Homo sapiens: one gene and its partners. The protein of the gene in region 1 purifies or fractionates together with the protein of each later gene. This does not show direct contact. Each region holds a gene or a part of one and is shown in the gene's direction. Other genes may lie near its edges. The genes, in order: NENF, POLDIP2, TXNDC5, CLIC4, MRPL23, NAPRT and SPTAN1.

Region 1 (3,500 bases):
TGTATTATATACTGAATTCTTACAGTAATGTAAGCTAGACAAAAGAAAGTGTTACTAAGAAAATCATAAAGAAGAGAAAATATATTTACTATTAAGTGAAAGTGGATCATTATAAAGGTCTGCATCCTGAGAAGGAAGAGGAGTGGTTGGTGTTGCTATCTCAGGGGTGGCAGAGGTGGAAGAAAACCCACATATAAGTGGACCCATGCAGTTCAAACCTGTGTTGTTCAAGGGTCAACTATATATAGATAGATAAATGGTTTATCATAAGGATTGGTTTACACGATAGCGGGGGCTGGCTGGGCAAATTGGAAATACATAGAGCAGGCTATCAGAAGGGGCAGGCTGGAAGCCCTCAGGCAGGAGCAGATGCTGTAGCCCATGGGTCTTTTTTTTTTTTTTTTTTTTTGAGACGGAGTCTTGCTCTGTTTCCCAGGCTGGAGTGCAGTGGTGTGATCTCAGCTCACTGCAACCTCCGCCTCCCATGTTCAAGCAGTTCTCTACCTCAGCCTCCCGAGTAGCTGGGATTACAGGCGCCCACCACCATGCCCAGCTACTTTTGGTATTTTTAGTAGAGACAGGGTTTCACCATCTTGGCCAGGCTAGTCTTGGACTCCTGACCTCGTGATCCACCCGTCTCAGCCTTCCAAAGTACTGGGATTACAGGCGTAAGCCACTGTACCCAGCCTTGTTAAGGTCTTTCGATTATGAGATTAGGCCCACCCAGATTATCTGGGATTATTTCCTTATATAAAGCCAATTGATTGTAGATGCACAGCAATATCTAGGTGAGTATTTGATTGAATAACTGGGTACAGTAACCTGTGCAAATTGACACATAAAATAAATCATCACAATGGTTATAATAAGAGTTCCTACTTGGCTGAGTGTGGTGGCTCACACCTGTAATCCCAGCACTCACTTTGGGAGGTCGAGGCAGGAGGATTGCTTGAAGCCAGGAGTTTGAGACCAGCCTAGGCAACATAACAAGACCTCACCTCTACCAAAAAAAAAAAAAAAAAAAGAGTTCCTACTCTAAGCAGGTGTTTTGTGAATGCCTGCATTAAATGAGATGGTGGTGTGCACAGGCTTAGCGTAGGCCTGGAATAGGGCTTAGCACCGTAAGTCTTAATAAATGTTAGCTACTATTATTTTTTATTACCTTATTAAAGATACAAGCAAGAGGCATTATAACAGGTCCACGGTCCTTTCATGCACTACAGAAATCTAATAAACTCTGAAACCTAGACATTTTTGTTTTTCACAAGTCATTTGACAGAAAAACCCAGCTTGATCTGAAATCACTTGATGACAGAACCTTGTTGGAGCTGCTATGAGTCTACGTTAGTCTTTATCCCATTTACTGTGAATGTTCATGTTTCACTGGAGAAATACTAACATACTTGATTATGGGTGTTGCCTTGGACCTCCCTAGAGGTATTGCATAATATATGGTATGTTCCCCATAACACCTTTCTAAAATCTGACATATTTTCATATTGAAAACATGTCTGACCCCCAAGAGTTTCTGCTGTGGGATTGTGGACCTGTGTAACAAGGCTTTCTGAAACATCTAGCAATGAGTGACTTGCTTCTACTAGATATAAAAAAACCTTCTTTCTTGGATGAGAGCCAAGGCAGACCCGCCTCTATCAGTCACACATCCCACTGTGTGGTTCAAGGTGAGAGAGCTCAGACACCCACACAGGGATTTGCGTAGTTTCTCCAGTGGCAGCTTCAGATGGGAAATCCGTGAAGCATGGGTGTCCTGGCTGTCAGTGTCTTTCACAGAGCCACACTGTGTTCTGGATCTACTGCACCAAGAGCCAGTTCTTTCCTTTTAGGCATTGTAGGGCCTCAGAGTGATCCAAGGCTCCCTAAATCATTCACATATGGGAATAGAAAAATCTTTGGTATACATTAGTCCTCTTCGAATGCTTGCTGAAAATCTGGGCGGGGTGTGGTGGCTCACACCTGTAGTCCCAGCAGTTTGGGAGGCCGAGCTGGAAAGATCGCTTAAGCCCAGGAGTTTGAGACCAGCCTGGGCAACGTAGTGAGACCTTGTCTCTATTTTAAAAAAGAAAAAAAATCTGGACAGCATCTCCTTGGTGCTTCTTTAGAACTCCATTCTCCCAGTAATTCTAGTAAGGGTTGTACAGAAGAGGTGATTTTGAGGACCTCTTATGTAGATAACAGGTTATAAAGTGAGTGTGTTGAACAAAATTGAAAATAGAGGAAAAAAAGGTAGTGTGTTCCAGAGTGCCTTTCTTTGGCGCTTGTTTTCTTCAACTCCTGTCAAAATTGCCCTGATAGGTAGAGATATTGCTTGCACATGTTCACCGGTAGCTTTTGCCTTGTCACACACCTGTTATGATAGCAGGGTTTCACTGTCTACAGATTGCAGGCCAGAGATTGGTATTCAAGTTTTCAATAAGGAAGAATTGCCCTAGGAAGGGCAAAGGCTTAGAATCAGACAGGTATGAGTCTGAATCCTGACTTTTTATTTACCAGCAGAGAAACCATTGACAGGTTATGTAAACTCTAAGCCTCAGTTTCTTCACCTACAAAATGGGTATAGTAATAACTGCCTTACAAGATTATTTTATTTTAGTTTAGTTTTTGAGACAAAGTCTCACTCTGTCACCCAGGCTGGAGTGCAGTGGCTGATTTTGTTTTGTTTTGCGTGTGTGTGTCTGTATTTTTTTTTTTTTTTTTTTGGAGACAGAGTCTTGCTCTGTCATCAAAGCTGGAGTGCAGTAGTGTGATCTTGGCTCACTGCAACCTCCGCCTCCCGGGTTCAAGCAATTCTGCCTCAGCCTCCCCAGTAGCTGGGATTACAGGCACCTGCCACCACACCCGGCTAATTTTTGTATTTTTAGTAGAGACAGGTTTTCACCATGTTGGCCAGGCTGGTCTCAAACTCCTGACCTCAAGTCATCTGCCCACCTCAGCCTCCCAAAGTGCTGGGAGCCACCATGCCTGGCTGTTTCTGTGTCACTTCTATTCCTGTGTCTGCATTTATACTCCCAAGCCTTCCACCCACCCTCCACCTTCTCAGTTGTCATTTCCCAGGCCTGAGAGTCTGTGCCTGGGGGTTGTGCTATCCATGGATGTTCATCTACACTGGGTCAGAACTCACCACCACAGCACGCTCTGTTTACTGATAAGACCATTCCTCTGCATGGCATATGAGGTATCTATGTCACTCTGAGGCCTCAAAAATGCTAAACATTCTTTTCTTCCCCTATAATATGACTTCCTCTTCGCACTTACACCTTCAAGTAAGTAGTTTAAGGAGGAGATAAAAATTTTACTGTTAAAAAAAGGAGATTGCTGGGTGCAGTGGCTCACGCCTGTAATCCCAGCACTTTGGGAGGCCGAGGCGGGTAGATCACCTCACGTTGGGAGTTCAAGACCAGCCTGACCAACATGGAGAAACCCCATCTCTACTAAAAATACAAAAAAAAAAAAAATTAGCCAAGCATGGTGGCACACGTCTG
Region 2 (3,500 bases), on another chromosome or scaffold:
CTCTGTTGGTGATCTTGAAGGGATGAGGAGTGGGGAGGCCAGGAGTGGATACAGGGATGTTGCCTCCCTGTGGGTGTGTAGGCCATGGTTCAGCTATCACCCTTATCCCACAGATACTCTCAGCTTGGTCTGTCTGCAACCTTCCTGGAATACATCAACTGCACTGGAGAGATGTTGATTGGAACACACTTGGTCTTGCCCTGTGGGACTTAAATTCTTTTTGTTTTCTCCCTAGGAAGCCCAGAATTCCCACGTGTACTGGGTGAGTGTCACTGTCTGGGAGAAGGGGAGCTTGTGGGGTGTGCCTGGGGGTCAGGGTGGAGGTGGGGGAGCCCACCTTCTGACGAGAGCGGAACCTGTGCAGTGCATGTGTCAGCTTTGTTGACTTTTGCTTTGCACAGAATTCTGAGGAGGGTTACCCAAATTTTATTTTTTTTAAACTCTCTCTCCCACACCCACCTCAGTGGCGCTACTGTATCCGTTTGGAGAACCTTGACAGTGATGTGGTACAGCTCCGGGAGCGGCACTGGAGGATATTCAGTCTCTCTGGCACCTTGGAGACAGTGCGAGGCCGAGGGGTAGTGGGCAGGGTGAGCATCCTTGGTCTAGTAATTCTGGTCCTGTGTGGCAAGCCTGGGGGCTTAGCGCATGGCTTCCTTCTCCTTTGTTGTTATAGACAGAGGCTCACTTTGTGAATACATTGTGTTGTTTTGGGTTAGAAATCTTAAAACAACTACATGAGATATGTTTCTTGAAACCCATTTCATAGATGAAAAGAGTGAGACTGAGAAGTTAAATAACCAGCCCATGGTCCCATAGCTAGTAGTGGCAGGGCCTCAATTTAAACCCAAGTGAGTCTGAAGTCAAAACTTGTGTAGTTTTTAAAACTGGTATAGTGTCTTTTAAAAACTAAAATTTGAATGTCGTTAGGTGGGGCACACACCCCCACCAATCCCTGTGGTCTTGCCTCTTTGCCCCTTTACATGTTTACATCCTCTGCTGGTCCTTGAAGAGATCTGATTTTATAATCCCTGCCTACCCAACCCTGTCTCCTGAGAAATAAAGTCACAAGCAGTACTGGTGTCAGGGGCCACATTCAACAAGCATTTATCAAAGTCAGCGAGGACTGGGGAGGCAGTTGGGCAAGTGAATAAGAACAAGGCTTTGGATTTAGGTAGTCACTTCAAATTCCAGCTGAGTTATATATTAGCATAACTTTCGGCAAGTTATTTAACCAAAATCTTAGTTCCTTACTCCTAAAATGTGGATCACACCAGTTATCTTATGATCATTAGGAGAATTAAAGCAGCAGAGGTTTGCAGAGTACCTGCCGTGGTCCCCGCCAGCATGTGTGAATGGACACTGGAGGGGATATCTCCACAGGAGGTCCTTTGTTTTTAGAGACAGGGTCTCGCTGTGTCACCCAGGCTGGAGTGCAGTGGTGCGACCATAGTTTACTTTTCTGGGCTCAAGCAATCCTCCGCCTCAGCTTTCTGAGTAGCAGGACTACAGGCACACACCACTATGCCTGGTTAGTTTAAATTTTTTTTTTTTTTTTTTTTTTTTTTGTGGAGATGGGGTCTCACTGTGTTCCCCGGGCTGCAGAGGAGGTCCTTTGCCCAGTGCCTTCGGACATTCAGTCTGAGATTATCTTTCCCAGAGCCAGCATAAAAGGCCCAGCCAAATGGCCATCTATGGGAGGAGGTACTGGCAGGAAGTGTATCATGCTATGGGAGTGCCTGCTGTGGTGGTGGCTGGGTAGGGGACATCCAGTCTTGATGAACTGGCAGTCAGCATGTAACCCTGGGGTGCAGGAAACATGTCCCTGGGGCTTGGCCTGACCCATTTTGCCTAAACCTTTACAGGAACCAGTGTTATCCAAGGAGCAGCCTGCGTTCCAGTATAGCAGCCACGTCTCGCTGCAGGCTTCCAGTGGGCACATGTGGTGAGTGAGTGTGCACAGCAGTAGGGGCCACCCAGCTCCACAAACAGAAGCTGTAGGTCAGAAAAGTGAGAGCTTAGAGCTTGCCATTAACTCTGGGCCAAGTTACATTCTTAGAGGGAGCCTTATCTGCTATATTGTTGTGTGGGACTTGTCTGATTTTCTATTACCGCCTGTTTCCCAGTACCCTGTGATTTGTGGACTGAGGACTTAGGCTAAAGAGGTCTGGTGATTTGATGCTGCAGAATTGCTTGTATAGTTGGGTTTTTTCCCTTGGTGTTTCACTCCTTTACCTGAAAATGCAGTTGGCTAGCTTATGCAGTATGTATCTAAAGGCCAGAATCTGGACAGCTGTGTTTTCCTTTTTTCTTTTGTGAGATGGAGTTTCACTTATTGCCCAGGCTGGAGTGCAATGGCACAATCTTGGCTCACTGCAACCTCCGCCTCCCAGGTTCAAGCCATTCTCTTGCCTCAGCCTCCCGAGTAGCTGGGATTACAGGCATGCGCCACCACGCCCGGCTAATTTTGTATTTTTAGTGGAGACGGGGTTTCTCCATGTTGGTCAGGCTGGTCTCAAACTCCCCACCTCAGGTGACCTCAGGTGATCTGCTGGCATCAGCCTCCCAAAATGCTGGGATTTCAGGCGTGAGCCACTGCAGCTGTGTTTTTCTTTTCATGGATAACCATGAGGGGCTCTTGGGTCTCTGGACCAGTCATCCTGTCATGAGCTAGAGATAGAAGAGAGCTCAGGCTCACATGTCCTCTGTGGCTGGCAGCTGAGGGCATGGGGCCATCCAGATCCTTAGGAGGCCTCAGCCCTGGCTCCTTCTAAACCAGCTTCTTTCTGACTGTAGGGGCACGTTCCGCTTTGAAAGACCTGATGGCTCCCACTTTGATGTTCGGATTCCTCCCTTCTCCCTGGAAAGCAATAAAGATGAGAAGACACCACCCTCAGGCCTTCACTGGTAGGCCAGCTGAGGCCCCAAGTGCCCAGGCTTGGTCACCGGGAAGAACAACTCTCATCCCACAATTGCTGCAGAACTCTTCTCTCCCCATCATGGGCCACAGTGGGTCTCTTAATTTGATTGTGGGGTTCTTTTTGTGGGGAGGGGTGGTATAACTTTTCTTCAGAAGACCCATGTGGGACACCTCCAAGGCTGGCCTCCTCATAAGCCCTGCCTACACCATGTTCCAGTAAACCTCTCCACCAAGGAACTGTGTTCAGCTGCCACAGGCCTGGAGGAGTTTCCTGGCCTGTCACGTGAGGTTTGATCAGTAAACCAGTGCACGCTTGGCCACCCTTGCCATTTCTGCTCCCAGAGTCTCAGGCTCCCCTTCTGACCCAGTGTGCGCCCTTGACTGCTTTCTTTGCTGCCCTTCCAGGGAGCTGCCCCCCTGGTAGGGCATGTGCCTGTTTCCCTCTCAGCCTGGAGGCTGGCTGGACATCTCCTAGGGTCACTGTGCCTCTCAGCTAGTTGGCGGGGGTGCTGGACTGGACTCTTGTTCACTTTACCTTCTGCCAAATGCAGAGAGGGAGGCCAGTGTCAGGGTCGGAGTG
Region 3 (2,886 bases), on another chromosome or scaffold:
ATAAATCATCCCATTCCTGCTCTCAGGAGAGAATCGCAGATCCATTTTTGGAGAAACACATAGACGTCATTCTGTAAAGAACTGTCAAGGGAGAATGGCTTTAAAGCAGACTACCATGTAGCACCTTTCCCTTAAATTCTCCAGCCAGAGCTTCCATCAGCGTTTTTCACATTGACTTAGAACAGGCTGCTTTCCATTTTTATGTTCAATGTAAAACAGGTATCATTGCCTTTGCTATTGTAACTAGGTTCTTTCTGTTGCATAGAGAGGATGTCACAAAGGGTGCTAGGAGAATAGGGTGGCCAGTGAGAAAAGCGGCTGAGGATGAGACTTCAGTGGGTATCCTGGAGACTCCAGGCTTAGAGGTGCAGACTCAAGTGTCAGACACCCAGGGCTGCCTGGTCCACACCACAGCGCCCTGGAGAGTTTTCAACCTGCCTCATCCCCAAAAGACAGTCCCCCTCCCCACCTTCATCCCCTGTACAGTGTCCAGCCACCTCCTCACCACATCTCCCAGGCTTGGGACCCAGGGACTTGCATTGATCTCTCTGCCCTTCAGAGGCTGCCAGCCTCCCTTTGTGTGTAGCCTATGAAATGCAGATTGTGTAGGTATTTCTGTGTGACCTTGGAGCCTACGTAACTGCATTTTTAAAAAATTACTGATTCGTGTATCTGCAATCCCAAAGCATGGCCCTGCTCAACTTTAAGGGATGTACTTGAACTGTGGCTTTTTCCTCCCTTGAAGGGCACTGTGTTGGCACTCACTGAAAATAACTTCGATGACACCATTGCAGAAGGAATAACCTTCATCAAGTTTTATGCTCCATGGTAAGTGGCTGTTTAATTAGAAACTACTTTGTCCATGTGTACTAAGTCACATCATGTTTTTCAGCTCATCTGCCACCCCTCCAGACTCAATGTTGGGCACATGTTACATTTATATGTAGGTCATGTTGTAGGAAATAAGGAACCGTTATCATGCTCCTATATTCAAATATTTTAAACTTCAATGGCCTTAATTATATATGGAGAATGAGGCTACAGTTATATCAACTTTGATTATATATGGAGAATGAGGCTAAAGTTATATCAACTTTGGAGAAAACATAAAAATGGAGGCAAATTATGATGGCCATATTCAGTTTTGTGGTATCTGCACTTTTCCAAATAGATGGCTTTTCTTTTTGGCTAAACAATGAGTGTCATGATGTAGCTTTGCTCCTCGGTTCTTTTAAGTACTCGGATTTCTTTTGTAGAGAAATCCAGTAGAGTCTGTTAGAGCCATTCAGTATGCTACGCAGTTTCCTGAACCTGCATGCCACGTGGTCTTGGAGACCAGAGCAGAAATGGATTGCAGGTAGTGTGAGATCCAGACAACCTTGGTTCTAAGACTTACCGTGAATGACTGTATAGTAAACTTGGATGTCCTTTAATTCCTTTGAACCCCAGTTCCCTCAGCTGAAAAATGGGAGTAACTTTTTGTCTTCACAAATAAAACAATCCATTTGGAAAAGCAGAGTGTTAGGACAACAGTAGATTGTTTATCTAAACATGATAAAGGCGTCACTTTTCTTGTTTGTTACACTCCACATGTTCCTGAGAAACTAACCATAGGGGTAAAAAGTTAATAAGCACAGGACTTGAACGAACCATAGCAATGCCTTTCAAATCATTTGCAACATTTAAAAACCTAAAGCTCCACAGATCAAGTATCAAAAAGGAGGATCCCCTTTGGCTGAAGGGGAGCCATCCATACGGCAGGAGGGGGTCAGAAGAGACAAGGGAACAGAGTCGGGTAGAAGGGAGGGTTTGAACCAAACTTAATCATGGCCTTGATGCTCACCCCACATCGCTGAAGTACCAAGGAGGCCTTAAAATGGTTTTGAAATTGTGAGACCATAAGCAATCAAATCTAAAATGTCTTTGGCATTCAAGTGACCTTTTAGAAATTGTGTGGCATCTGCCCTGTTCCCTGTTCCTCTGCTCCTGTGCTTTCATAAACCAGTTAGCACAGTTCACCATGGCATGGAAATGGTCTCAGAATCTCAACTTGTTTTGAGACTGGCTTGCTTCTGTCACATTATCTGAAAGTCTACCTTGGATCAACTTTTGGGTTCTTCATTTGGGATAGGAGGAGGAAGAGTTAATGTGCACCCAGTGGGAGAATTTGGTATTTTACAAATTTCTAGGCAATTGTTGACTGTCCCATACAGAAGAAACAGAGCTTGTCTTGGCAGCAGAGTGTAGGTGAATGATCTCGACCCAGGATTTCAACGAAGCTGCCATTTTTCTCGTCTTAGGTGTGGTCATTGTAAGACTCTGGCTCCTACTTGGGAGGAACTCTCTAAAAAGGAATTCCCTGGTCTGGCGGGGGTCAAGATCGCCGAAGTAGACTGCACTGCTGAACGGAATATCTGCAGCAAGTATTCGGTGGGTACTTGGATGGATGCTTATGGGAGCTCTCAGTATGGGGGCAGATCCCAAGGGAACTGTGCCTCAACCACGATAACTCACTCTGCTCTCATCTTCTCAACAATGTGGTTTTTATGTCCCTTTGAGTTGTTTGTTTGGAGAAGCAAAAGAGATCCTCTCTCAAAGGGAAGGCATTCTTCTTCGCCCGCTTTGTAGTTAGTATCCATGTTTCAGTGCAGGTTTTCAGGCCTTGCTGTCTGAGTAACAAGGCCGTGAAGTAACAGACCCCACGCCATAGACTGTGGGGCTTCCCACACCGCGACTCTTGATGATTGACCAGTGGTCTGTAGCCTTTGCCATAAATACCCGAGTCGCTCATTTTTCACACATAAGCCAGCATTATAAAATGCAGTGGCTGAATCTAAGAATCATTTCAACATAACCTCCTTTCTGAAAGGGCCATGCCAGCAAGTC
Region 4 (2,687 bases), about 190 Mb from region 1:
CCGCCACCACGCCCGGCTAATTTTTTGTATTTTTAGTAGAGACGAGGTTTCACCGTGTTAGCCAGGATGGTCTCGATCTCCTGACCTCGTGATCTGCCTGCCTCGGCCTCCCAAAGTGCTGGGATTACAGGCGTGAGCCACCGCGCCCGGCCATTTGTTAGCAAGTTTTTACAAATACCACTGCCTGACATTATTATGCTTATTTATACTTTTACCTGAACAAACTTGTTTCATCCCCTGCCCCACCTAATTGAGCTCTAGGAGAGCAGGAGCCTTGTCTGTTTTGTTCTACAGTACCTTGTTTCAGAGTAAACATTTTTAAACAGTTATTGACTCAAAGAGTCTGCTTCTCCTTGGGGACTTGAGTGGTTTTCCTTCTTACAGTATTCTCATCTCTTTTTTTCCCCCCCAAGCACTGGAGAGGGGTCTCCTGAAAACCCTGCAGAAACTGGATGAATATCTGAATTCTCCTCTCCCTGATGAAATTGATGAAAATAGTATGGAGGACATAAAGTTTTCTACACGTAAATTTCTGGATGGCAATGAAATGACATTAGCTGATTGCAACCTGCTGCCCAAACTGCATATTGTCAAGGTAGGTCTGTAGGGGTTGATGTCGCATTGCCATTACCTTGTATTGTATTTACTAAAGTGGCATTTCCTTTGTGCTCAAAACATTTCTGATTTTATATGACTAGTTGTTTAACTCAATGCTGTTTAGGCAATAGTTGAAGCACCCTAGAGTTAGTTAAATGGAAAATTATGTCTTAAAATTGAGGAATATAAGAAAGATGAATATTTTTTTTTCTGTGACTGCATACAAATTCAAAGATATAATGCGTGACTTTGAATTGGAGTTTGCCACACTGACTTATGTTATCAAATTCTGTTCTGTGATCACACCTTGCTTTCTCTATTGAAGGCAAAAAGTATTGAGCATTTATTATATGAGACACTGGGCTGGGCACATTGTTAAATAGAATAATAATAAGCGCTAGTTGTAAATAAAGACCTAAGATAACAAAAACAGATCTAAAATAGCATATGTGTGTTGTGAAGTATTTTCCAGTGATTATACTTGGCTGTCTTTCTGGATGTCCAAGGCAGTTATTTGCAGTCACTGTCACACTTCTAAATCCCTGGTGTAGCTTGCAGTCTTGGTCATTATTTAAAACTCTGGTTAGAATGATGGTGATGGACTTTTTTTCATATAGAAGCAGTTCTCAAAGATTTAGAGCATTAATTATTTGCTCCAAAATCAGAGATATGTCTAGTTTACAAGACGTGGAAATAAGTCTGTTAACTTTTGATCTCTTTGTATTTCAGGTGGTGGCCAAAAAATATCGCAACTTTGATATTCCAAAAGAAATGACTGGCATCTGGAGATACCTAACTAATGCATACAGTAGGGACGAGTTCACCAATACCTGTCCCAGTGATAAGGAGGTTGAAATAGCATATAGTGATGTAGCCAAAAGACTCACCAAGTAAAATCGCGTTTGTAAAAGAGATGTCTTCATGTCTTCCCCTAAGAATACGCTTTTCCTAACAGGCTACTCCTTCCTGTAGAGCAGAAATTGTATTTTGCACGAACATGCAGTTATTGAAGATTAGGATCAAGGATAGACAAGGTATAGTAGTTATCTTAAAATATACACTCCTAAGCAGTATTATTTTAAAATCCTTTACCCTGGCTACCTCCCCTACCCGGGTTCCCCTCTCTTTAATTTGGAGACACTCCACCACAAACTTTTCACTTTAGAGGTAGCTTGCCATCTCTCAGGAGCCCTCACCATTGTGTCCATTCACTGTGTATAGATGGCAGAACTTTTGAGGTGCAATGTTTAATTGTTAAAAATAGTAGCCACGACTTTATCAGGCAGCCCCAAACTGGTGCATAATGCATGGTACAAGAAATATTTATGTATTTTTTGGAATTTTGTAATATTTAGTAAGAGTATATGAAAGGATTGCTACTGTATCAGAAATATTGTTTCAATTTAGTCTATCCTGGATATGTACTAACGAATATTACCACCAGAGAAGAGAGCTTTCTACAAAAGTCACTACAGATTTTGCTATATTGCTTTGTAGATAGATTTTTACTTTTGCCTAAAAGCATTTATCCTTCATACCAATTGTAACATCTGACACCATGTAGAAGCTAAAAGTTTAGAGGGAGTGAGGGTTTTCTCAAGACCTTCCTCAAGCATTTTATCTTTAGAAGAGAAACTGATGGGCACCTGATACTCTGTCTAAATACGTTTGTTATATGTGTTTTGCCCTGTGCCATTCATTTGGAACTTTATTGCATTCTTTATTTTAAAAAGCTTGTTTTTACGTAATCATAGAGCTTGCTATTTGTACATCTGTTGAGCAACACTACATAACTGATTTTTAGTTGACTTAGCTATAGCAGTACAATGATTAGTAATGTAAAAATTAACACAGAAATTAACCTAAGGAATGAAGGGTGGGTTTGTCAAAATATCAAGTAAATTTTTGTTTCTAAAGTACATTTAATGTAGATGACCTAAAGAATGCGTTATCCATCCTATATAAAAGAAAGATAAAACACAGGTCACCAATTTTCTCATTTCACCCCATTTACCTTGTATAGAGGATTGTTCATTCCTTTGGGACTAAGTTATAGTTATGGTGAGTGTGTATTTACTGTAGTTTTGCCT
Region 5 (3,385 bases), on another chromosome or scaffold:
GCAGTCACACGATGGTGGAAACCGCCTCCTGGGCCAGCCGGCCTGTTGTGGGGCTAAGGAGGCAGTTTGTGAAAAAGGCCAAGTTAGCATGGCAGCTTTTCTGAAAAACAGTCACATTTGTTGTTCTAAACAGGGGCCCCCGGAATAATTTGGCCTGATATTTGCTGTGCATGAAATCAGCCAATCCAGGTGGGGAGAGCAGCCGTTGGCCTCATAAAGGCCTCTGTGTGCTCAGTGTCAGTCGGGCCCATCTGTCTTTGTCATGGCATGTGGGTGGACATCCCGTGTGCCGGCACCGCCACGGGCACTTCAGAGGCAGCTACGGTTACAAGTGGCATTCAAGTCATCCGAGCCCTTGCGTTCTTCCTCTGGGCCCCACCTCCCATGAAAACTGAACCCAGCAGCTCCGGGATCCGGTGTCTGCAGCTGCTGCCCGCGTGTTGTTCTCCCTCTGTGAAGTCCAGGCAGCCAGAGACAGGGCAGGGCAACTGGGAGCCTGAAGGGTCCCAGTTGGGCATGGATCCTCCTGTTCCAGAATGAAAATTTGTAACGGGTCCTCACCCCCCTTCCTGAACTCCAGCACATCTTTGCACAGCCTAGAAATGGGCCGTGGCCGTTGGTCCCTGTCTGCCCGCAGAGGGGACTCTCAAGGCCCTTTCCTGTCTCGTGTCTGCTGAGACCTTGCTCAGCGTGTCCCCCTGGGCCCTGCGCCAGGGCTTAGAATCACTGCTAATTGCAAAGCCCAGGGAGGGAGCATTGGAAAGGTAAAATTATCCACGTTATTTGGAGTTGGCCGCTGTGGAAAGGCCCTGTCCCACGTGGCGGGAGTCCCACATTTCTTTCTCCGACAACCTGATAAGCATCTCCTTGGCCCAAAGTCCTGGGAGCTGAAAGCAGCGCCTCAGTGACCCACACAACAAAAAGACCATTGACTGCCCGCTGCCCCGAGGCTTGTGTGGATGCTGAGCAGCGCGGGAATGAAGGGCGCGCAGGAATGAAGGGCGCACGACATGAGAGGCAACTCCAGAACAAACCGCTGCCGCCAGCTGGGCCGAGCTCCGTGCTCGGGGCTCCGGCCTCCAGGTCCAGGCAGGCGGCAGCCCCCAGGGCGCCCTGGGATTCCTGAAGGCAGGGCTGCCTTGTTTACTTGTCATTGGGACATTTTTCTCCATTCCTGTTCTTTACCCCGATCAGCTGTCTCTCTCCTTTTTGGAAGGATCAAGGGCTTTTTTTTTTTAGGTACAAGGTGAACTCTTCTAGAAAGGGGAAGCCCCTGGGAAACCATGCTTGGCATCCCCAAACGGTGTTTGTCTCCTGTAAGAAACGGATTTTCTCTCAGCACCTTTCCCCATTTCTTCCCGAAGCTGTGACAAATGGCCATGTTTGTGCTTTAAACTGTCATTTTGGGTTCCCCTTGCCTCGGAAAACTAGCAGAATCACCTCCATATAGTCAAGGTGAATCTCCCATTCTGGGCAGTCAGCCTCACGTGTAAACGACTGCCCCTTGGTATTTTAAAAGACGCAAAGTTCAGAGCTGTGTAAGGCAATCCTCCTGCAGGCCGGCTACGGCGCACGCAGTGCCACTCTCCCCGCCAGCCCCTGCGCTCTGCGCCAGGGATCAGGGTGCATACACCTCCCTCGCAGGGTGGGATCTGGGCCTGTTTCAGATCATACTTGGCTGCCTGCCCACATCCAGATTTATTTACACACAAAGGGTCTGCAAGAGCCAAGTGTACCTGACTGATTTTACTCACTAAAGGGTTCCAGATTCGGGTGCCATCCTCACTCCTCCTCCCTCTTCTCTTCCCTCTCCTCTGGTCTGCTCTTTCTGCCTCTTAGCTTTGGAGCACTTAGTAATCATTAGCAAGTTAAGATGGCTTCTTGTATTTGCTTAGGTCCCCAAGGAGCAGTATCCCCTCCTTCTCGTGAACCCGAGCCACATGCTGTGGCCTGGGCTGGGGCTTGGCTGACACGGACATATTCTGAACTCTCAGCAGAAGATGTAAGACCAGTTAATTGGCAGAGCCGGTCCTGATTTATCAACTGCCGCACGTGCATGTTTCTTCGTACGTGATGTTCACTTTAATTGCCAGGCTCTGGGCTGGGAGGAGGGGGAGCTTTAATGTGAGTAGAGCCTGAGGCATTTTGGATGGACAGGTTCAGCATGGTACCAGACGTGATTTGTGTCATGTTTTTCCATGCCTTGTTTCTGCCCCCCACCAACCAGGTGGCCCCGTGCTAGTAAATGGGTGCACCCAGGGCGGGGGCAGACACCAGGCCCTAAAGAGACAATGGTGGGGAAAGCGGCCCTGTCCTGGAGCTGTGGCCTCTGCTGCAGCGTGACAGCCGGGGGCCGGTGGCCGTGGGGGTGCTTACATTCCAGGCAGGGACGCTGCCCCAGGAGGCCCAGGGAGGTACCTCTGAGCAGTTGAATCCGGCGCCGGCAGAAAGGGGCTGCCAGAAAGCATGAGGCTCCCCCACAGACCCCTCTGCTGAGGAGTCTTTGCAGCTCTGGCTGGAGCCTTTGTTCTCCCCCTTAGGCCCATGGACAGACCTTCACGTTCCCAGATCTGTTTCCCGAGAAAGACGAGAGCCCTGAAGGCAGCGCTGCCGACGACCTCTACAGCATGCTCGAGGAGGAGAGGCAGCAGAGGCAGAGCAGCGACCCGCGGCGGGGCGGCGTCCCCAGCTGGTTCGGGCTGTGACGGGGTGGCCAGCAGGGACGCGCCCCAGGTGGGCAGCTGTGGCAGAGCAGCGACCCGCGGCGGGGCGGCATCCCCAGCTGGTTCGGGCCGTGACGGGGCGGCCAGCAGGGACGCGCCCCAGGTGGGCAGCTGTGGCAGAGCAGTCCCGACACCTAAATAAAAGTCTTGCTGCAGGAGAAAGAGCCGGAAGCTCTGCTTCCTTCTTCTCTTGGGTCTCTGGGTGCCAGACACGCAGCAGCCACCCCCCAGCTCTGAGCGCCACGTGGCCTGGCTCCGCTTTCCCAGGGTCTGGGCAGTGGGCGCGGCCGGGGTCTGGTCTCTGAGTTGACGGGGAACTGAGGGTGGGCAGACTTGAGACGTGGCCCCATGCTGGGGAGGCGGGTTGGCCAGAGAGGGCCACACACAGGCTCGGAGCTGCATGCCAGGTGGGGAATGAGACACGCAGGTGAAAAGACCCAGAAGATAGTTCTGAGCGCCCACATTCAGAGCCTGAGCCCAGAGGCGTCGGGAGGAATGGAGGGGTCAGCGTGAGCACGGGGCGGCGCCGGGTGAGAGAACGGCCTGGCCTGGACAGAAGTTCTGGGGAGGGGCTGCCAGGGCAGCAGCCCTCAGGGGGCCTGGTGAGGGAACTCCGGCCCGCCTGTGGGTTTCGGTTTGGCACTGTTGGCAGCAAGAACCCG
Region 6 (3,956 bases), on another chromosome or scaffold:
AAAGCCAGAAACAGAAACTGTTAGGTCACTATCTGGAGAGGCCACCACCCCACCACTCTGCCTCCTGTTGGCATTGTCCCCATGGGAGCAAGCGTGCAAGCCTGGAATTGTCCAGGAAAGAAGTCCCAGTAGCACCCGGCCCTGCTGCCATGCCCTTTGTCATGTGCTGTCCCGGCCCTCCCCTCACCTCATTCATTCCTGGAATCCCTGCCCCTTGCTCCAGGGACTGTGCCCCTCCCATGATGTTCTGGGGTGGCCAGAACGTGGCTGCCTGGGCTCTGTGGAGCTGTGCCTCAGCATCCTGACAGCCGTATGTGGTCAGCATGGGTGGCCACACTCCCTCCCCTGGACCACCCGTGTTTGCATTGGGGTGAAAGAGGATGGGGTGTAATTACTTGATTACTTCTGGTCAGACTCTGTCCTCGGGGCCCCAAGCCACAGGGGAATGGATTCTCCCTGGGTAGTGGCCCCTGACTTTGCCCTCAAACCTTTAGAAAGTTTCCTGTGGGGCTTGGACTGCAGGACCCCATAAAAGCCACCACTGAGGGACACTGGGCCTTCATAGCCACAAAAGGTCTTTTGGTGCCAGCCGACAGTGGGCATGCGCCCCCCTGCCCCACGCCGCCCTTTCCTGGGTGCCAAGCTCTTTCCAAGCGACATTTGCGTCCATCTGGGCTGCCTCGTCCTAGCCTGGCTGCTCAAGCTCTAACTAAGGCAGCCTCTGGCCTCCCTCCCCAGGCCCAGGGCAGGAGCTGGCTGCTGGCCAGCGGTTGTCTTCTGGGTCGGTGGGGGTGGAGTCTGGCTGGTCTGTCCTCCACCCTTTCCGCCGCCTGGCAAGTCCTGAGCTGCACCTCATTGCCCGGCCAAAGGGCAGAGACACGAGCGACTGGGGGCACCTCTGGTGACCAAGACCGGGCTGCGCTCCAAAGAGGCCGTTGGGCCTGGAGTGGGGTTGGGGGGTCCGAGAGGAGTTGGGTGACATCCCCCACCCCATCCCGGGTCCAGCTGTTTCAGCCCCTCTCGGCGCGCCGATACTATTAGCCCCACCCGTCCTCCATCGAGTCCCGTGCCGCTCCCAAACGGCACGATAAGCCCCACAGGGAGTGCGCCATAGGCCGGGGCGCGTCACGGGGTCGGGGCGGGGCGGAGTCCGGACGTCGGGAGCAGGATGGCGGCGGAGCAGGACCCCGAGGCGCGCGCGGCGGCGCGGCCGCTGCTCACTGACCTCTACCAGGCCACCATGGCGTTGGGCTATTGGCGCGCGGGCCGGGCGCGGGACGCCGCCGAGTTCGAGCTCTTCTTCCGCCGCTGCCCGTTCGGCGGCGCCTTCGCCTTGGCCGCCGGCTTGCGCGACTGTGTGCGCTTCCTGCGCGCCTTCCGCCTGCGGGACGCCGGTAGTCCCCCGTCCGCGCGACGAGCCCCCCACGCCCGGCAGAAACCCCCACCTATGGCCGGTGGAAGTCCTTGTCCCCCCGTGGAACCCCCCATGTCCCACGACCGGTCTGTCCCCGCGCTGGTCTCAGCGCAGTTACCTCGTTTCCAGACGTGCAGTTCCTGGCCTCGGTGCTGCCCCCAGACACGGATCCTGCGTTCTTCGAGCACCTTCGGGCCCTCGACTGCTCCGAGGTGACGGTGCGAGCCCTGCCCGAGGGCTCCCTCGCCTTCCCCGGAGTGAGTAGGGGTAAGCGGGCGGCGCGGCGGCCACGGGGTGCTGGGCCGAGCGCGGAGCTGACTTCTCTCCCCGCAGGTGCCGCTCCTGCAGGTGTCCGGGCCGCTCCTGGTGGTGCAGCTGCTGGAGACACCGCTGCTCTGCCTGGTCAGCTACGCCAGGTGGGCTGCGGGCCACTGGCAGGGAGCGTGGGCATGGGATGGGCCCCCAGCGCCGGGGCTCCGTGCTGGACTGTGGCGGCGGGGCTGGCTGCCCAGGGGTCCCAGGACTGGCCTCCCGCCCCCACTCTTCAGGGTGTAAGGAGGGGCTGGGTGAGGGTGGAGCTCCCAGGTTGGAAGTTCCAGGCCCCAGGTAACCGCCGTCTTGGGTGGCCTAGTGATCCTCACCCTGGGACCCCCTGACTCTTGGCTCCCCACAGCCTGGTGGCCACCAACGCAGCGCGGCTTCGCTTGATCGCAGGGCCAGAGAAGCGGCTGCTAGAGATGGGCCTGAGGCGGGCTCAGGGCCCCGATGGGGGCCTGACAGCCTCCACCTACAGCTACCTGGGCGGTGAGTGTCTGGTGCGGGGCAAGGCAAGGGCCGGGAAGGAGGAGCCCCATCTTGGCCCGAGGTCCCCCAATCCCACCGCCTTCCTCCCCAGGCTTCGACAGCAGCAGCAACGTGCTAGCGGGCCAGCTGCGAGGTGTGCCGGTGGCCGGGACCCTGGCCCACTCCTTCGTCACTTCCTTTTCAGGCAGCGAGGTGCCCCCTGACCCGGTCAGTCCCTCCTCTAAACCCTGCTGTCTCCAGGCGACAGGCCCCAAGCCAGCCCTTGCCCTGGCGAGAGGTGTGCCACCCAGGCAGGTCACCCCAGTGCTGTCCCAGGAAGCTGGCACGGGCTGCATTACCTTTGCTCTCAAACTAGGGTGTCCCTGGCTGCTCCCAGGCCTCATCCTGCATTCCTGGCCCCCATTCTTCACCGACTCTGTTCCACAGATGTTGGCGCCAGCAGCTGGTGAGGGCCCTGGGGTGGACCTGGCGGCCAAAGCCCAGGTGTGGCTGGAGCAGGTGTGTGCCCACCTGGGGCTGGGGGTGCAGGAGCCGCATCCAGGCGAGCGGGCAGCCTTTGTGGCCTATGCCTTGGCTTTTCCCCGGGCCTTCCAGGGCCTCCTGGACACCTACAGCGTGTGGAGGTGAGCCCGGGCACTTTAGGGGTGGGCTCAGCAGAACCTCAGCAGCCTCTGACTCCCTTATCTATTTCTGCAGGAGTGGTCTCCCCAACTTCCTAGCAGTCGCCCTGGCCCTGGGAGAGCTGGGCTACCGGGCAGTGGGCGTGAGGCTGGACAGTGGTGACCTGCTACAGCAGGCTCAGGAGATCCGCAAGGTCTTCCGAGCTGCTGCAGCCCAGTGAGTTTCCCGGGGAGGAGGTGTGCCTGGTGGGAGATCCCCGGGGTTTGGGAATGGGCAGGGAAGGACAGTGAGGTACTCTGCTGAAGTTTCAGCGGTGATACTGCAGGCCGTGGCAGGGAAGTAAGTGGTGGGGCTCCCTAGGAGCTCCCAAGCAGAAGGTGAGCACAGGTGTCCTTGACTGAGGCGGGGCGGGGAGCAGGGGGACACCAGGGTGAATCAGGAAGACCCGAGGGGTGGCCCCCACCCTTTCTCCACCCACGCGGCAGGTTCCAGGTGCCCTGGCTGGAGTCAGTCCTCATCGTAGTCAGCAACAACATTGACGAGGAGGCGCTGGCCCGACTGGCCCAGGAGGTGGGGTGGATGAGTGGGTAGGCGGAGGGTGGCTGGGGGGCTCTGGGGGCCCCTGCAGGTTCTGGCTGGGCTCATTGCCACCTCCTTCCCCGCCCAGGGCACTGCCACCCCCTTCCCCACCCAGGGCACTGCCACCTCCTTCCCCCACCCAGGGCACTGCCACCCCCTTCCCCACCCAGGGCACTGCCACCCCCTTCACCCAGGGCAGTGCCACCTCCTTCCCCACCTAGGGCACTGGCACCTCCTTCCCCACCCAGGGCACTGCCACCCCCTTCCCCACCCAGGGCAGTGCCACCTCCTTCCCCACCCAGGGCAGTGCCACCCCCTTCCCCACCCAGGGCAGCTGGGCTCACGGCCACCCCCTTCCCCACCCAGGGCAGTGAGGTGAATGTCATTGGCATTGGCACCAGTGTGGTCACCTGCCCCCAACAGCCTTCCCTGGGTGGCGTCTATAAGGTAGGGACAGTGTCGGGGGCCCAGGTGGGGGCAGGTCTGAGGGATGGTGCTGGGTGGGGGATAAGGACCAGCCAGCTCAACGCCCTCTTCC
Region 7 (3,500 bases), on another chromosome or scaffold:
CCTTTGGTGTATTCATTTGGTTTCTTTTCTTTGAATAGCATAGCATATCGTCGGGTCATTCGTGTCTATCAGTATGAAGTTGGGGATGATCTGTCTGGAAGGTTTTTCTCCTTATTTCTCTTCTTACCTCACTGTGGCTTTACTGATGCACTCTTGACATCCCCAGGCGGCTCCACCCTGACTAACCTGCCGCCCTCGGCTGCTTGGGAAGGAGGGGTCTGTCCTCCCACTGCACCGGCACCCAGCCTCCTGCCCCCAGGTCCTGGGGGGCATTTTCCCCGGGGGGACATGGCGTGACTGTGAGTCTGACCTGCTGGGGTAGGAGGAAGCCTGGTGCCTTGCCTTGCTAGAGCACTTTGAACCTGGGGAGATTGCAGAGCTAACCCTGGCTCGCCGGGTTTTAAAAGGGTAGGTTGGGGTGAATGTGGGTACAGGGGAGCCTGGGCTAAAACCCCACCAAGGCCACACGCACCGTGTGATTCGTCCCTGCACGTAACCCTAACTCGTTTGTTGTCTTTGTTTACTGGTAGCCTCTGTGACCTGGCACTGTGTTCTCTTGGGAAGGAGGCTCCCCAGAGCCCATCTGCTCTCAGAACTTGGTCCTAGAGAGGAGGCTCCCTCCCTGGCTGTGTCTAGAGGATGGAACCGGGATCTGGGGTTTAGTCACAGCCATCTCTCTCCTTTTGGCACAGTTGGTCGTGATCTCCCAGCACTCCACTTGTGTCCTTTGTCTGCAGGGTCGTGCTCTCATTCCCCCTAGAATGGGGCTCCCTCCCTCAGGAACCTTGCCGGGACACTCCAGGGTTTCTGTGGGGAGGCTGTCAGGTTCTCAGCCTCCCCTCTGCCCTGAGGTCTCCTGTCTGTCAGGTGTCAGGGTGTGCCATCCCCCACATGGCTGCAGAGAGGATGCTCAGACAGGCCTGCAGCCACCCTGCACCCATGGGGGAATTTAAACTCCATTCCTGAGTCATCCTGGCCTTGGGAGCAAGACGAGTGGGCTCAGCCCTGGCCCACACCAAGGCAGCAGCTTCCCATCTCTAAAACGGGAGAAATGCTCCCTGCCATCCCTCGATCCCTGGGGCCCATTAGGTAAAGATGGCCAGTTGCAGTTAGGTTTGGTTTCCTTAAAAGGAATGTGAGGTTGCCAGGCATTGCTCTCTCTGAGAGAAGGTTCATTCTGAGCTCTCGGCCAGCTGGGAGCAGGCCCCTTTCCTCACTGTCCTTCCACGTTTAGGTCCTGTATGGTGGAAGAGTCGGGGACCCTCGAATCCCAGCTTGAAGCTACCAAAGTAAGTGCCCGTGGGGCTCTGGCCCAGCAGAGACCCTTCACCCAGCCACCCCCCAGGGTACCCCTTCCCTTCCTGGCTTAAAGTCAGGAACCAGATGTGCTATTATTGTACCCTTTTCCCTTGGCCTAAAGCAGTCTAGGGCTCTTCACTATCTCTCTCTCTTTTCTTTCTTTCTTCATGGAATCTCTCTCTCGCCCAGGCTGGAGTGCAGTGGTGCGATATTGGCTCACTGCAACCTCCACCTCCCAGGTCAAGCAATTCTCCTGCCTCAGCCTCCCAAATAGCTGTACTACAGATGTGTGCCACCACATTTGGCTAATTTTTGTTTATTTTTAATTATCTTTTGAGATGGAGTTTCACTCTTGTTGCCCAGGCTGGAGTGCAATGGACGTGGTCTTGGCTCACTGCAACCTCCACCTCCTGGGTTCAAGTGATCCTCCTGCCTCAACCTCCCAAGTAGCTGGGATTACAGGCGCCCACCACCACACCTGGGTAATTTTTGTATTTTTAGTAGAGACAGGGTTTCACCATGTTGGCCAGGCAGGCTGGTCTCGAACTCCTGACCTCGGCTGATCTGCCCGCCTCGGCCTCCCAAAGTGCTGGGATTACAAGCGTGAGCCACCACATCTGGCCTAGTTTTTATATTTTTAGTAGAGACAGTGTTTTGCCTTGTTGGCCAGGCCGGTCTGGAACTCCTGATCTCCAGTGATCTGTCCACCTCAGCCTCCCAAAGTGCTGGGATTACAAGCATGAGCCACCACTCCCGGCCGAGGGCTCTTCACTTTAAAGAAAGTCTTTGGGGCTGGGTGTGGTGACTTACACCTGTAATCCCAGCACTTTGGGAAGCCGAGGCGGGTGGATTGCTTGAAGTCAGGAGTTCGAGACCAGCCTGGCCAACATGGGGAAACCCCATCTCTACTAAAAATACAAAATATTAGCTGGGTGTGGTGGCAGGCACCTGTAATCCCAGCTACTCAGGAGGCTGAGGCAGGAGAATCACTTGATTCTGGGATGCGGAGGTTGCAGTGACCCGAGATCAGGCCATTGCACTCCAGCCTGGGTGACAAGAGCAAAACTCCCTCTGAAAAAAATTACTTGGGCATGGTGGCCTACACCTGCTCAAAGTCCAGCATGGGCAATATATAGCAAGACCTTGTCTTAAAAATAAGGCTGGGTGCAGTGGCTCATGCCTATAATCCCAGAACTTTGGGAGGCCAAGACAGGCAGATCACTTGAGCCTAGGAATTCAAGACCAGCCTGGTCAATGCAGTGAAACATCGCCTCTACTAAAAATACAAAAATTAGGCAGGTGTGGTGATGGGCACCTGTTAGTTCCAGCTACTCAGGAGATTGAGGCAGGAGAATCACTTGAACCCGGGAGGTTGCAGTGAGCGTGATTGCGCCACTGCACTCTAGCCTAGGCGACAGTGAGACTCCATCTCAAAAAAATTTATAAAAATCTTTGGCCACTGCTTCCTGGAGTCCTCGCCGTACTTGTCCTTGGCGTGCACTGCCCTCTGGCAGGTCTACCAGCTGCTTTGGAACCCTCACATTGAAAGTCTCTCCCTCTATTGAGGTGGTTGGGATTTCTTCAGCTTCACCCCATCCCACTATTCCTATTCTAGAATGTTCTTGTTTTACGAGGTCTCAGGCCAGGCCTGGAGCAGGAACCAGAGGGCAGTAAGTGGCTCCTGGGCTGGTGACTGAGCTGAGGGCCCCCGTCTGAGCATCTGTGCTCCCCACCCCTGCAGCGCAAGCACCAGGAAATCCGAGCCATGAGAAGTCAGCTCAAAAAGATCGAGGACCTGGGGGCCGCCATGGAGGAGGCCCTCATCCTGGACAACAAGTACACGGAGCACAGCACCGTGGGCCTCGCCCAGCAGTGGGACCAGCTGGACCAGCTGGGCATGCGCATGCAGCACAACCTGGAGCAGCAGATCCAGGCCAGGTACCCGGGAGGGCTGTGGGCCAGGCTCAGCCCAGAGCAGGGGGAGGAAAAGACACAGTCACCTGCTGTGTGGAGGGTCTGTTCCCTAATTTCTGTTTTTCTTCCAGGAACACAACAGGTGTGACTGAGGAGGCCCTCAAAGAATTCAGCATGATGTTTAAGTGAGTTCAGCCTTACTCGCCCTGGCTGGGTGGGGGGTGTTCGGCAGCAGGGCTGCCTGCTGAGCCGCCCTCGGCTTTGTGCTGCAGACACTTTGACAAGGA

What was found.
Region 2: the proteins of NENF (region 1) and POLDIP2 fractionate together in Homo sapiens (co-fractionation; one large-scale study listed by BioGRID). This does not show direct contact.
Region 3: the proteins of NENF (region 1) and TXNDC5 fractionate together in Homo sapiens (co-fractionation; one large-scale study listed by BioGRID). This does not show direct contact.
Region 4: the proteins of NENF (region 1) and CLIC4 fractionate together in Homo sapiens (co-fractionation; one large-scale study listed by BioGRID). This does not show direct contact.
Region 5: the proteins of NENF (region 1) and MRPL23 fractionate together in Homo sapiens (co-fractionation; one large-scale study listed by BioGRID). This does not show direct contact.
Region 6: the proteins of NENF (region 1) and NAPRT fractionate together in Homo sapiens (co-fractionation; one large-scale study listed by BioGRID). This does not show direct contact.
Region 7: the proteins of NENF (region 1) and SPTAN1 fractionate together in Homo sapiens (co-fractionation; one large-scale study listed by BioGRID). This does not show direct contact.

Annotation. Positions count from the first base shown.
Region 1 is NC_000001.11:212,435,920-212,439,419, forward strand, and holds part of NENF (neudesin precursor), read left to right. Parts: intron 1-3,500. UniProt on the Homo sapiens protein: Acts as a neurotrophic factor in postnatal mature neurons enhancing neuronal survival. Promotes cell proliferation and neurogenesis in undifferentiated neural progenitor cells at the embryonic stage and inhibits differentiation of astrocytes.
Region 2 is NC_000017.11:28,347,528-28,351,027, reverse strand, and holds part of POLDIP2 (polymerase delta-interacting protein 2), read left to right. Parts: intron 1-235; coding exon 236-262; intron 263-464; coding exon 465-590; intron 591-1,529; exon of another isoform or gene 1,530-1,865; coding exon 1,866-1,945; exon of another isoform or gene 1,946-1,995; intron 1,996-2,698; exon of another isoform or gene 2,699-2,796; coding exon 2,797-2,911; 3' UTR 2,912-3,500. UniProt on the Homo sapiens protein: Involved in DNA damage tolerance by regulating translesion synthesis (TLS) of templates carrying DNA damage lesions such as 8oxoG and abasic sites.
Region 3 is NC_000006.12:7,883,903-7,886,788, reverse strand, and holds part of TXNDC5 (thioredoxin domain-containing protein 5 isoform 1 precursor), read left to right. Parts: intron 1-745; coding exon 746-828; intron 829-2,300; coding exon 2,301-2,430; intron 2,431-2,886. UniProt on the Homo sapiens protein: Protein disulfide isomerase of the endoplasmic reticulum lumen involved in the formation of disulfide bonds in proteins. Can reduce insulin disulfide bonds.
Region 4 is NC_000001.11:24,839,447-24,842,133, forward strand, and holds part of CLIC4 (chloride intracellular channel protein 4), read left to right. Parts: intron 1-413; coding exon 414-595; intron 596-1,326; coding exon 1,327-1,491; 3' UTR 1,492-2,687. UniProt on the Homo sapiens protein: In the soluble state, catalyzes glutaredoxin-like thiol disulfide exchange reactions with reduced glutathione as electron donor. Can insert into membranes and form voltage-dependent multi-ion conductive channels.
Region 5 is NC_000011.10:1,953,716-1,957,100, forward strand, and holds the end of MRPL23 (large ribosomal subunit protein uL23m), read left to right. Parts: intron 1-1,895; coding exon of another isoform or gene 1,896-1,970; exon of another isoform or gene 1,971-2,066; intron 2,067-2,540; coding exon 2,541-2,705; 3' UTR 2,706-2,885; downstream 2,886-3,385.
Region 6 is NC_000008.11:143,575,531-143,579,486, reverse strand, and holds the start of NAPRT (nicotinate phosphoribosyltransferase), read left to right. Parts: upstream 1-1,156; 5' UTR 1,157-1,168; coding exon 1,169-1,394; intron 1,395-1,543; coding exon 1,544-1,671; intron 1,672-1,747; coding exon 1,748-1,830; intron 1,831-2,087; coding exon 2,088-2,218; intron 2,219-2,309; coding exon 2,310-2,425; intron 2,426-2,644; coding exon 2,645-2,841; intron 2,842-2,914; coding exon 2,915-3,055; intron 3,056-3,324; coding exon 3,325-3,409; intron 3,410-3,784; coding exon 3,785-3,865; intron 3,866-3,956. UniProt on the Homo sapiens protein: Catalyzes the first step in the biosynthesis of NAD from nicotinic acid, the ATP-dependent synthesis of beta-nicotinate D-ribonucleotide from nicotinate and 5-phospho-D-ribose 1-phosphate.
Region 7 is NC_000009.12:128,629,087-128,632,586, forward strand, and holds part of SPTAN1 (spectrin alpha chain, non-erythrocytic 1), read left to right. Parts: intron 1-38; coding exon of another isoform or gene 39-101; intron 102-1,234; coding exon 1,235-1,289; intron 1,290-3,040; coding exon 3,041-3,237; intron 3,238-3,344; coding exon 3,345-3,398; intron 3,399-3,485; coding exon 3,486-3,500. UniProt on the Homo sapiens protein: Fodrin, which seems to be involved in secretion, interacts with calmodulin in a calcium-dependent manner and is thus candidate for the calcium-dependent movement of the cytoskeleton at the membrane.